Homo sapiens: one gene and its partner. The protein of the gene in region 1 interacts with the protein of each later gene in a pairwise test. Each region holds a gene or a part of one and is shown in the gene's direction. Other genes may lie near its edges.

The links. The genes of interacting proteins can lie anywhere in the genome.
Region 2: the proteins of DSCAML1 (region 1) and MAGI3 interact in a two-hybrid assay, tested with the Homo sapiens proteins (one study listed by BioGRID and IntAct).

The regions. Positions count from the first base shown.
Region 1 is NC_000011.10:117,787,207-117,794,234, reverse strand, and holds part of DSCAML1 (cell adhesion molecule DSCAML1 isoform 1 precursor), read left to right. Parts: intron 1-7,028. UniProt on the Homo sapiens protein: Cell adhesion molecule that plays a role in neuronal self-avoidance. Promotes repulsion between specific neuronal processes of either the same cell or the same subtype of cells.
Region 2 is NC_000001.11:113,645,497-113,652,524, forward strand, and holds part of MAGI3 (membrane-associated guanylate kinase, WW and PDZ domain-containing protein 3), read left to right. Parts: intron 1-989; coding exon 990-1,146; intron 1,147-3,740; coding exon 3,741-3,832; intron 3,833-5,517; coding exon 5,518-5,710; intron 5,711-7,028.

The DNA.
Region 1 (7,028 bases):
AAGCTTCCCCGGCACTAAAATTCCTGTTTTCTAAAAGCCAAAATAATGGATTGCATTGATTTTTTCATTTCCCACCCCAACTTCTCCGATGGGGACTCATGGTTCTTCTCTCTTGGGAAGACCAAATTAAAAGCCTTCGTCAGGGCATTAAGAAAATCTCCAACATTCTGTTCAGTGTCTAATTAAAAAAAGGGGGGGGGGGCAATGGGGAAATGTGTTTTTAAAATCTTGAAATGGCAAACGCAACTTAGGGGAGGCAGGCGAAGGGCCAGTGAATACTGGGGAGGGGCTGAGTGGCAGAGAGACCCCGGTTGCTAGAATAACATGAGGGAGATTGGCAGGGCCATGATGCCCGACAAGCCTTTCCGACGCTTCGTTTTTCTGGGCATCAAAGCCAGCTGCCTTTAATATATTTCTGCAGTAGAATGGGGGAGCTAATTAGAAACAAAAAACAAGTAAGCAGTAGACCCAAAGGCGGCGCTTAAGTTGAACAGATCCCGGGGGACTGGACAGAGAGGCTTAGTTTTCTTAGGATGAGGATCAGAGAGGATGTGAGCAAGCAGACAGGGCTTTGGCCCAGGGAGAGCTTGGTAGGGAAGCAGGCCCCAAACAGGCTGGCTAGGAGCCCCCAGACACAGGGTCAAGGTCTGTCCAGAGCACCCCATGGACTGTTAGCCTATGACAGAGGGATGCAGACCTCAAGCCTTCCTGACCTTCTCTGTGTCTTAGAGAAGACACATCCTTGCCACTTGCCACTTGCTTGGTACCCTGCTCTGGCTGGTGAAGGATGATTTAATTGTAGATGAAGAGAGGGGAGGGCAGATGCTCAGAGAGTTTTTCTGCAGGGATACGAGTTCCAGGCTGCGAGCTTCTTCCCTCCTCCGTGATCTTGGAGGAGTTGTTTTCTGGGGGACCTCTGAAGTAGTCAAGAGAAGATCCCCTAGTTCCTGAAGCACTTTCTCAGCTCCCAGCCCAGTCGATTCTAGCGGGTACCCAGGTGCATGAATAGGGTGAGCTACAGGCAGCAGCGATGGCAGGGTGCCAGGAACCCAAGGGCACACCCCAGATTTGCATATAATCTGCATATGGATTTGCATGCTCACCTAGCCAGGCCAAAAGCTGTGCCCTCTGTGAGTAGCATCTTGACCTCAACCTCAGTAGCAGCCAGTCATTGGCTTCCTCCTTGCATGGAAGGGGGTGGGGAAGGAGCTGGGAGAAGGACTGCTGTTGGTAATGCTTCTGTCTCCTACATTTTGTTGCCTCCATATGTGCCTCCAGTGCTCAGCACTGGCTTCACCATCTGGCAAGGCAGCCCCAGAGCTCCCACCACCCCTATCCAAGGACAGACAGTGGCACTGGGGATATTGGGGTAGGATGGGTAGCAATGGGCCAAGACACCGTAAGGTAGACCAAACTTGGGATGTGGGTTGCTCCTCTCATGGTGCAGGAAGAAGAGGGTGAAGAGAGGGGCAAACTAGCTATAGAAATCCAGGGCCCGCATTAGATTCCTGGTGGGTGCACCCCTAGAATGCAGGGAGCTGGGTGCCTAGGGCTGCCATCAGCAGGTAGTGAGGTAGTTGCTGATGGCATGGGGGTGTGAAGTGAGGCAGAATGCTCTTTCACCCTCCTGGTTTGTCACCACCTAGCCTGGGAGGTGGTCGTGGCTTCAGAGAGATGAAAGATATAGCACCAGCTTCTCATTCCACCTCCCCTAGGGCAGCTTCAGGTATGTGGGTTGGTTATGGCGGGGCAGAGGGAGGACAGGCACTACAGTCACTGAGGGAAGGGCGTGTCAAGAGCCTGGAGTGATGCTTGAGGAGTGAGCACTTCAGGAGAGCTGAGTGGCCCCTCCCAGCGAGCCAGCTGGGATGCTGCAGTGGGAGTGTGGCCTCGGGAATGGTTTTGTCTGCATTTCCAGGGCCCTGAGAGGATACTACTATGGCAGGTGCAGCTCCAAAGCCTTCCCAGATTATTTTTCTGCATATCCACTGATCCAGAAGGGGCCTGGCCCACCAGAGCCCACAGAGGTTTCCAAGAGATGTGGTATGGAGGCCTAAGGGGTGAGGTGGAGCCTCAGGGGATGGACAGAGGTAGAGAGGGGGAGGGCCAGAGGGCAGAGCTTCAACCAGAGCTTTTATTCATTATCCAATTTCATATATTGGAGTAGAATGAAAAATAAGAAAGGTTGCAACCCACTGGTGTGGTAGAAATTTGGAGTCAAGGCAAATCTTTCATTCACATCCTGGCTCTGCACTTACTGGCCATGTGACTTTGGGCCTCTCTGAGCCCCACTTTCTCCAGCTATGAAATGAGATTAAAGAAGATAATGCATATCAAGTAGCCAGAACATAGTTAGTGCTCAATAAACATTAGACCTCTACTTTTTCCTCTGCATTGCCTCTACCTTCCTCTCCCTGCCCCCTCTCCAGAATGCATCATCAGATCCTTCCCTAAGCAGTTGAATTAATCAGCCACATTTTTGGCCAAGCCAGTTGGCTTAGACTTTATAACAATAAGAAAGACAGAGTAGTGGCCAGGACAGGGGACGTCAACTCCTTCCATCCGTCACCTAGCTGGATAGCATGTAGGACTCCACATGGCTGAGGCCATGTGGTCACCTGAGTGTCCCTGGGGTGCCCAGCACACTTCCTTCCCCTGGCCATCAGTGGAAATGAAGAGGGCTGAAGTTGGCTCCAGACTTGGATTTGAGGTGAGGCAAAGGTTGGTCTCATATCTGCCAAAGGAAGGCTGGGGTTGGTTGTTAAATCTCTACCACGGTTGGCCAGAGTAAGAACTATTCTGGAGTTCATGCCATAAAGCCTGCGTAAGCACTCCTCACAAAGCGAGGGAGCCCTCATAACTGTTGCTGGATGTATTTCTGTGTCTCTCCCTGCTGAGATGAACCTCTATTTTTCAGGCAGTTTTGCATATAGAGAACACTCTTGGCAGCCTGTGACCTTGGGACTGCTCTTCCTTCCATGACCTAGTCTGTCACAGGGAAGCAGCATGTAACCCAGAGGTCAAGTGCTGCCTATGGCAGGCCATGGCCTGTGGGATCCTACATGTTGGGGAGGCTGTGGGCTCCACAGCCTGTGTGCCTTGTTAAACAGATGTTTGTCCTGTGCTGCTTTAGAGTGAACAGCATTAGCCTTGGGGACCACCCATGCCACTCCAGCTGCTACTCCCCTCATTCGTTCAGCTGCCCTGCCCCACTCCCTGTGCCCTGTCTCTACATGATGCTTGCACTAACAGTTTCCAAGGTCACCATCTTCATTAACAACAATTATTCAAATGCTAGTTAGTTGCATATCCATTAAACTGATTCTAAAGAGATGCATGTGTGTTTGCACGTGCATGTGTGTATGTGTGTCTGTGTGTTGGAAAGAACATTATCCATGGACCTAAAAAACAAAGCTCAGCCTGTCTTACCTGGGCAAGTTGCCTAATGGTTCATGTGCCTTTATTTCGTAATCTGTAAAATGGGCAAAATTACCCCCGTCCTGGCTATCCTACAGAGCAGTTGTTACTGTATATGTGCATAAATAAGAATAAGAGGCATAAAAATGTACATCATGTGACAGTGCTTTGTATACAGAATGAGGCAACATATGAACACACACATGTAAAAACCACAGCAAACCCGTTTTAGCCTTATAAATGCTCTGCTGAAATGTGAGGCATAATTACTGTCATTTCATCATACAGGAACGATGAAGGTCTCACAGCTGTTTGTGGCTGTCTCCCCCTCCGTGGGCCCCAACATATGGAGAATTTTCCTAGCTTTGCTTTTCAGCATCATGGGGAACAGCTGATGAGGCACAGCCAGGCTGGCAATAGTCTTCCTGGAGCAAACTTGGCAGATCCCTTGAGGCCCCAGTGGTAGTGGGAGTGGGAGGAAGCCTACCTCTTCTCCCTCCTCCCATTCCCCTCCAAGGTTCTTAGATGCAAGTGTAGTCCATAGTCCTCTGGACCAACTCCCCCAAAGGGACATTCTCCCTGCAGGGAATCCACAGTCTTTTGTGGGAAGAGCAGTAGGCACAGTCCCATCTTATGTGACCTCATTTAAGGTCACAGTATTCACTGGAATCTCTGAAAACTCTGCCGAGTCGAGACTGGTGGACACCCTGCTACTAGGGTGACCCTCCCGCAGTCGTGGGGTATGAGAGAGGATAGGACCCCTGCGTTGGGGGTGGGAGAGGGAGATTCAGGTGATCACCTTGGGTAAAAGTCTTGCAGGGTTGGAAGGCATCTTTAAGGCTGTGGAATCTGTCCCCTAATCAGAGGCTGACTCCCTCTGCAGCTTTCCCACCCAGTGTCTTTTTCTGTCTTCACTAGCACTTCCTGCAACAGGGACTCCTTCCTTGCAAGGCAGCCCATTCCTGGCCACACAGCTCTGACTATTACAGAGCTCATCCTTAGAATGAGTCAAACCCTGTTGTGGTCTTGGACCTTCTACTCACTGGTCCTGATGTCACCGCTTGGACCACATAGAGCAAGGCAAAGCCCTCTTCCACTTGACAGCCCTGCGACTGTGATAGGCAGATGTCCTGCCCATCTGAGGCCCCTGCTCTGGACACGCAGCATCCCTAGTTGCTCTGATACACCCTCGAATGACATCGTTTCGGTGCTTCATGGTGCTCCTGAGTTCCACAATGGCTAGTTTTCTGACAGCAGGGTGGCCAGAACTGAGAGAACACTGGAGACAGCACTGTAGCCCCAGCTGGGATGCTGGTGAGCTGTGTCCCTGGGGTAGATGACTCCACCTCTCTAGGCCTTGTGAATGGAGGAGATTGGAAAAAATAATCTCTTAAGTCCCTCAAGCATTAACAATCTAAATCTAGGATTCTCTGGGGACAACTGTGCTGTCTGAGCTGACTCCCTGGAAAGAAATTTTGGCCATAAGGGACCTTCCTTTGACAGGCCCTGTCTAGAAAGGGCTGGAAGATTAAAGAGTCTGTCCGACAGTCAGCTGTTGCTCATAACTTCTCCTGGAGCTGATGGCACAGGGCCTTGGAGGTTGAAGGATAGCTGCGTCTCCACTGGACCTCGCAGGTTTCTGGTTGCTGGTCACAGAAACCATGTTTGTGCTAAGAATCTTAAAAACAAACAGCAAAACCACCCATGTTTCTGATGGACACAGGGAGGACACTTGAGCTGTGCTTTGCATGGGGATTGGAAATGGGGAGCGTTTTTTGGTCATCTCAATGACTAGGGTGGGGAGCTGCTGGCGTTTAGTTGGGGGAGGGATGGAATGTCTAATGACAGGGAGATTCCCAGGTAATTCTGAATTATCATACCCCAATTGATCTCTTTTGTCAGAAAATCCCCCCACAGTGTGCTCACACCATGGGGATGGTCTGAATCTAGCCTGTCATGTGCCTGCTGAGCCACACATCCTGGCATAAAGATGTGAAATGCAGCTCTGCCACTGCGAACTGTGCAACACCAAGAAATTATTTGACCTAAGAGCCTGTCTTCTTATCTGTAAAATGGAGTCTTGAGTAGTAGCTACATCCAAGGGCTGTTGTAAGAATTACATGTGCAATAATGCAAGAAAAAGGCTTCCCACCATGCCTGGCACAAAACAAATGCTACAAAGAAATGATGGGGCTGGGCATGGTGGCTCATGCCTGTAATCCCAGCAGTTTGGGAGGCCGAGGCAGGCGGATCACTTGAGGTCAGGAGTTCGAGACCAGCTTGGCCAACATGGCGAAACCCCATCTCTACTAAAAATACAAAAATTAGCCAGGCGTGGTGGTGCACGCCTGTAATCCCAGCTACTCAGGAGACTGAGGCAGGAGAATCGCTCAAACCTGGGAGGTGGAGGTTGCAGTGAGCCAAGATGGTGCCACTGCACTCCAGCCTGGGTGACAGAGCCAGACTCCGTCTCAAAACAACAACAACAACAACAAAAACAAAAACAAAACAACAACAACAAAACAAACCAAAAAAACCAAAAGATGGCACTGTGATGGGGAAGGTAGTGGTGGAGCAGGTGTGCCAGATTGGGTGGACATCACAGGCAGAGAGCATGGGACTTGGCCCGCTGCTTCCTCTTGTCCAAGGACCATACCAGCTCAGGCTGCCTGGTACATGCTCTGATGCTGTCTGGGAAACTCAACCCTCTCCTTGCCAGTGTCTGGGCTCAGACAGTTTCCAAGATGCAACATAAAGGGTTTTTAGTGAAGCAGCAAGACACCGTCTGGCTGGTCCTCCTCTGGGTTTTGAATGGACTTGGTGGGTGAGCCGGTGGGAGGATCACCCTACTGGTTGATCCTCTCTAGAACCAATTTTTCCAACTCTGGGATGAGAACAATCAGAGTGAGGGCACATAACACATCTCCCATGAAAACCTTTGTGTGGAAATACAGTGAAGTAATCAACCTTGCAAATCAATCCAAGAAACCTCTCCAGCTCACATCTGCATGAAGAACTCTGCGTAAGGCCTGGGAATTAGCAAAAGCTGTGTGGCTACTGCAATGCTCTGTTGCTATTGATTCTACCACTGTTGTTTTCTTATCTTGATCTCCAAATTAAGTTAATTAATGTGGTGGTAGGGTCTTGTCAGCCAAGCAGATGACAATTGTCTGTCGTTGGGAAAGGAAGTATAGAAGTCCAGGATGGCAAATCTACTTTTCCAAAGGACTGTTACTCTCAGTATAGACAGAGGACACCAGTCTCAGAAATAGAATTTCTGGCCCTATGACAGACTTGGTGAATCTGTTATCTAAGGCTCTGCATTTTTAACAAGCTCTCCAGGTGATTCTTATGCATACTGATGTTTGAGAACCACGGTTTTAGGTTATTATTATTATCATCAGAGGTGAGCAGTAAATATTTGTTGCACAAGGATTCACTTTTCCCACAAATACTTACTGCTTGCCTGCTATAATGATAATGCTTGTAACAACAGCCACAAATACTTAGGTGGTGCCAGGCACTTACATAAAGCAGAAACTGTCCCAAGCTCTTCATATATATTAACTCGTCCAACCATAACAACCCTTGAGGTAGACATTGTCACCACC
Region 2 (7,028 bases), on another chromosome or scaffold:
GCAGTGGCCCTAATGCTTTATAATTGATGGAAGGGTCTGATGAACTTTAACCGCCTCTGACAGAATGCTAAGATGTATGGGGAAGGGTAGGAGACTACTGTTAGCTTCTCTGCCTTCTCATTGGGTCTGGGTGATTGAAGGGTCCCCTCTAGCACGACACTTTGTAGTGGCTGACCCCTGATTACTCCCTGACAGACTGGTGCCCCTGCATTCTAGTCATTGTTAATGATCACAAACATCCATAATCTCCCTCTCCTAACAATAATCCAGGAAAACGAGCTGGTCTCAAAACCATATTTCTTAGGCCATTTATTGGATTTCATTGTTAACATTTTATTAAATAAGTCATTTTGCTTGGCTGTTATCTTGGGAAAGTTCTAGCTGAATAGGAAAAATATCAAAATATGCTACTATGCTTTCCCTTATCTAATTGTCTTGCATGGTACATTTTCTCTTAATATATGTGAATTGGCCAGACAGGGTTTTCACAGTGCCATCTTTATAACCTAAATTAGAGTTAACCTCTCCTGTTTTCTTAGAAAGAGTATTATCTTAAACATCTTCCTTAGAAATTAAACTCAGTGAATGGGAGGTGGGCCGTGCTAAGAATTTTATGAAGATATTCTCTGAATCTCCCTCTTACTTTACTTAGAAGTGCTGCCTTGTATTGTATTTCTATTTATCTTCATCTCAAAGTCAATTTGTGTCTTGGTGGTGGAGAAAAGGGCAAAATTGTTTAAACATAGGACTAACTAAGGCTCTTCAGTTGATATTACTATAAACTTTTTTCTAATTTAAGTTAAATATGTTTCAACCAAATACACATTGCTATGAAAATGAATTCCTGTAACTGTAAATCTGCTGTGTCTTTGATCCTGCCACCTATACAACTATAATCAGTTGACATATCCATTTCAGATATCAGTTTTATGAATTAATCAACCATCTGCTTTTTAAAAAATACTAAGTAAGGCTCTTTTCCATTTCAGAAAACAGATAAAAAGGAAAATGCAGGAAGTTTGGAGGCCATAAATGAGCCTATTCCTCAGCCTATGCCTTTTCCACCGAGCATTATCAGGTCAGGATCCCCAAAATTGGATCCTTCTGAGGTCTACCTGAAATCTAAGACTTTATATGAAGATAAACGTAAGTAGTTGTGGAATATTTCAGGAGAGCATATAACAAGATAAATTTGGATTTATTTTAGACTAGGACCTTCCCATCTTTCAGAAGCATATTGAAAAGTTATTCCTTCATTACCATTTTAATAGAACTCTGGACTTCTTCCATGTATATTCGACATTCACACATTCATTTTTTTCAAAATCATGCTTTAAGTGCTAGTTATCTACCAGATGCCATACTAGGTAACCAGAATACAGAGATAAATAGGTTACATAGGACCTGCACCCAAAAATATTATTAGAACTAAATGGAAAAAGACAAATATGTAATCAAATAGTATACAAATAAGTACACATAATAAGCCTAACAGGTACAGTGATAGAAAGATGAAATGGATAAATTGGGATCCAAAGAAGGAATATTCAGTTTTATCAGTGTGGGCAGTAGGAAGTGTCAGGAAAAGCTTCATACTGGAAGCAAAGCTTTAACTAAGTCATCAGGGATGAAAAAGTGTCTTTGAGGAAGATAAAAGGGAAAGATAGAAGGAATAGCACATGCACACTGGCCTTGCATGACTTGGGCTCTGCAAGTAGTTCACTTTCGCTGGGTGCAATTGGCAAGGAAAGTCACAGAGGAGAGCAGGAACAGATTGAGGAAGGCCAATGATGCCCTTCCAAGGGAGCTGGAGTTGGTCATATAAATAACAGAGAACCACAGAATGCCTTTAACTATAAGGAAGGCATAGTTTTGTGTTTTAGAAAGGTTTTTCTGGCAGGAGTATGAAGGATGAATCAGAGGTGTATGCAATTTGAGGGAGGGTGTGCAATTTGAAGAAGAAACTAAAGAGTTGACTCCTTACAGGAGTCCAGCTGAGAGATAAAAAGAGAGACTGCATAAGGCAGAAATTCATGCATGTTCCTACTAATTCACTTACTAATGATAAATCTTTTCCAAAGTAAAATTGCAGATTTGAGTAGGTATAATTTTTTAAAATTTATTTGTTCTTAGAAAGAGATGTAAATCTACCTTGGAAAAGATATGTACAAGTGGAATATATGTATAGTTGACTTAATGCTTATTTAACTAGTTGCAGAAGTACATCTTGATAATCCCAAGCCATATTCAGAAAGATGAAAACCAGTTGTACGCCCAGCAAAGCAATAATTTAAATTAGCATAACAATGTAGAATCCCTTTCTTCATACTTTCCATTCATAGCCTGATACATTATTAATACTGGTATAAACTCTGCAGTCCCATCAGGCTTCACCCATAAAATAAGTGAGTTGAACTGATGACTCTTTTTTTTTTTTTCCCCTGAGACAGAGTCTTGCTCTGTCACCCGGAGCTGGAGTGCAGTGGCACAATCTCAGCTCACTGAAACCTCTGCCTCCTAGGTTCAAGCAATTCTCCTGCCTCAGCCTCCTGAGTAGCTGGCACTACAGGCGTATGCCACCATGACTGGCTAAGTTTTGCATTTTTAGTAGAGACGGGGTTTCACCATGTTAGTCAAGCTGGTCTCAAACTCCTGACCTCGTGATCCGCCCACCTCGGCCTCCCAAAGTGGACTCTTTTAATCTCTAAAGTTCTACAATTTTAATAGGAAGTATATATCAAAAGATACTGCTTCTATAGAATATTATCAGGAATTTACTAATCTCACTTTTTACATAGTTCCCTGACATGTTTATTTCTTCTCTCTTTACAGTAAATACTTCTTACCTATAAATAACATTAATATTTTCCCAAAGGAAAAATTTTAGTCATGAAATAGATTTTTGTGACTTAATATTCTTTTTTTTTTTTTTTGAGATGGAGTCTTGCTCTGTTGCCCAGGCTGGAATGCAGTGGCACGATCTCAGTTCACTGCAACCTCTGCCTCCCAGGTTCAAGCAATCCTCCTGCTTAATATTCTAAGGAATACAACCTACCCTTTGAGGGTAGGACAGTATGAGTTAGGAGATTAGACCCTGGAAATCAACCTGGATTTAAATCTTAGCTTCACCACTTGCTATGTGACAATGGCCAACTTACTTACACCCTCAGTTTTCCCACCTAGAAAATGGGGCTAATAATAAATGTTAGCTCTTAATTATTTTCCTTTAAAATGCTATCATTTTGCAAAACTAGGCTAGGTAAGTAGTTCATATGGAATACTTTTCTGAGAGAAAGGTATTAGCTTGAGAGCAGGAATAAGGTATTTTACAGGCACTCTATACAGCAGTGCCTGTACAGATTTAATGTACCTTACCCAAGTGTTAACTTAGGTCATTTGCACCTGTCAAATATCAAACTCAAGTTTGATCATTCTGAATTCAACATTGTTATATTGATTGGACAGCATTAGAAGTTAATGGCAGTGTAATACTGAGTATATGGAAGTGAGAGTAAATGTTTCTAAACAGTCTTCATACAGTTTTGTTTAGAGCTCAAAACGAGGATTTATAGTTGAATTGTGTGTGTGTGTTACACTCTTGTGCAAATTTTCCATATTAAAAAGTTCTGAGATTATAGTTTATTGAGTTACTCTATAATATCCTACTAAATACTGAACTTTGTTTTGTTTTAATCCTTTTAAAATAAATCATAGTATTTATATTTTCTGATTTTCCTCAGCACCAAACACCAAAGATTTGGATGTTTTTCTTCGAAAACAAGAGTCAGGGTTTGGCTTCAGGGTGCTAGGAGGAGATGGACCTGACCAGTCTGTAAGTGTCACTTCTTTGGAACATGGCTGTTTCCTGTTCAAACGTTTTGAGTGGTGATTTGGTGGATTATGGTGTGTTTTAAGTTTTTTTTTCTCTGACAGTTTCATTAATATGAAGAATAACTGCATTTCCATTATTATCATAGTCCCTCAGTTATTGTGGTGTAGCTGAGGCTAAAAACTGTGGGTAAAAACTGAATATGTCAGCTGCAAATTAGACAGTGATTAATTTATTTACTTCTCTGTGTGAATAACTACATAAAGCTTATTTTAAGTTTATATTTTCCTTTGCCCTCATTAAACAGAGTCTAAGACATTTTCCTTCTCTAAGAAGCCTATAATCCCATGTCCTCTTTCCCACTATTACTCTATCTTCTGGATGCTCCATAAATGGTTGGCATGAGCCTGTGCATATTGTTTCACCTCGTCTTATTAATAGGTTGGCATTTTCATGCTCAGTACTTTGCATGTCATTTCATCTGTTACCTTTGAAACTAGAGGAATATAAAATAATTAATATTTTTGTCCAGAGGCATAAGGGTTATATTTGCAAAGCATTTGAAGTCTAGGATTTTGTTTACACATGATTCTCACATAAACTTGTTTTAGAGAACAAATGTAGTGGGTTTTGTTTCTAAGTTTTGCTCTTGGTTTGAATAACAAAGAAGTAATGTGTTCTGTAGCATTTTTAAGAACATATTTGCATTTTATTTTATATAATATCAATATATTATATATCAAAAAATATGGTTGGAAGTTAGGTGAAGAACAATAATCTTTAAAAATTACAGGCTTCTTATTTCTGAATAGAACATTTGATTTATGTAGTATAAATTTGTTCTAATTGGTCATATTGGTTACAGTTACAACAGTCATTGGAGACACATAAAGCTTAAGGCAGGTTGCCCTATGTAGAACAAATACTAGATACTTTAATTGTTCTTGGTATTTGTATTTTTGTTTTATTGCTTCCTATTTTGTTGATACTCATAATGTTCACTTAGACATTTTAAGAATTTGTCTCAAACAACTTAGAAGAAACCTTTCTTTTCTCTTAAATGTCAGATTTTAGCAGCTCTGAAACTAGCCTAAACATTCAGGATTGCCTAATTACAGGATTCTAATGCTGGTGAGCAAAATGAACCAGATTTGTTCACCTAGATGCAAGTGAAGCTTCAGGCCACTCTGTTCCCGCTGAGATTTAGAAACAAGAAATGTCTCTGTGCTGTGTATATTGAACTTGTACCGTTAGTCATATGTGATGGGAGTACTGTTGAGAATGATCCCAGTTGCTGTGAACAGTATGTAGAAAATCTTGCCTGATGACATTGAACAGACTTTTAATAGCTACTCTGCAGATTTATATTTTCTGAGTTTAGTGTTTTGTTTCATTGTAATGATAGGGATAATGGTTGTGCTTTTTGAGTTATCGAACAACTTTGTATTTTCTATTTTCTTTGTACACAGCCCTGAGGATCTATAAGGGATTACATAATACAATGTGGTTATTTGAAGTGCCATTTTGGAGAATGGGCACTTTCTCAGATAATACCTTTCTAAAATATAACTGTTTTCATAGTTGAACTGCAAAAATCTGTTGGTTTGCACAATGCTAAGTTAGGAATTCCTTAACTCTTCAGCTAAACTTTACACTGTGGACCAAACTGTACTTTGTTATCTTATCAGATATATATTGGGGCTATTATTCCCCTGGGAGCAGCTGAGAAAGATGGTCGGCTCCGCGCAGCTGATGAACTAATGTGCATTGATGGAATTCCTGTTAAAGGGAAATCACACAAACAAGTCTTGGACCTCATGACAACTGCTGCTCGAAATGGCCATGTGTTACTAACTGTCAGACGGAAGATCTTCTATGGAGGTGTGTGAACTTGTTCCTGCTCTGAAAAGTTAAAAAAGAAACAAAGATACTAGTCTACTTCCTGTGTAGTTTTGCAGGTTATTTTATTACATTCAGTAGTATCTAAGATAACCCATTTGGTGTGATCCAGGGCCTCACTGTGGAAGGCTATGCAAACACAAAAGGATTCAGAAATAATACTACTATAAAAAAATAAATTTTGGGCTTCTATATTAAGATTATTTTCATATATTGATGCATTTTGCAAATGTATTATAGGTGGGAGTATTGATTTAAATCCGGTTTTGTTTTGTTTTGTTGAGTTGAGGTAGAGTCTCACTCTGTCACCCAGGCTAGAGTGCAGTGGTATGAGCTCAGCTCACTGCAACCTCCACCTCTTGGGTTCAAGCGATTCTCCTGCCTCAGCCTCCTGAGTAGCTGGGATTACAGGCACACACCACCACACGGCTAATTTTTGTATTTTTAGTAGAGACGGGGTTTCACCACATTGGCCAGGCTGGTCTCGAACTCTTGACCTCAAGTGATCCACCTGTCTCAGACTCCCAAAGTGCTGGAATTACAGGCGTGAGCCACTGTGCCCAGCCTAAATTTGTTTTGTTTTTTTTTAAATAACAAATACAAAATTATTTAGTCATACCAAGATATCCCACTAGCTGAATATACAAAGATTTTTGGATCCCAGTGAAATCTGAGCTACTAAAGGAAAGTAGGATGTTTCTACTTGAGAAGTTTTAGTATAATTTAACATTTATTGAGTGCTTACTATGTCCTAGATGCATGGATTATTTTATTTAATCTTCACAACACTATGAGGTCATTATCTAGTTCTATGATTACTCAGAGAAAGGTTGAGAAACAAATAACTGGTAAGAGGTAGGGCCTGGATTAAAAGTTGCAGTTTAATTCAGAGATCAGGGTTTAAACCATAGCATTAGGATATGAATATCTCTTATAGTTTCTCGCCAGTAGCTTTATGAATAATTAAATAGAAATTCTTATAAGTGAATTCTTTCCACTTTAAAATTAAAAAAATACAACTCTGTAGCACAAGAATATAAGCCTCATGAAGGTATGAATTTTTATTTGTGTAGTTATCTGCTGTAAGCTCGGCACCTAAAAGAGTGCCTGTCTGGTACAAAGTGGACATTAATAAATGTTGTTAATTGGATGAATATTTACATCACTCTTAAAAATGAGGCACTGTATTTTTTATTGCAACATTCAAAGTAAAGGCCTGCCTCCTTTGGTAAATACCAGGCATTTAGAATGCATATAGATTGTAATGCAGTACTGCCTCAATTTGGTTGTGTTGGAGGCC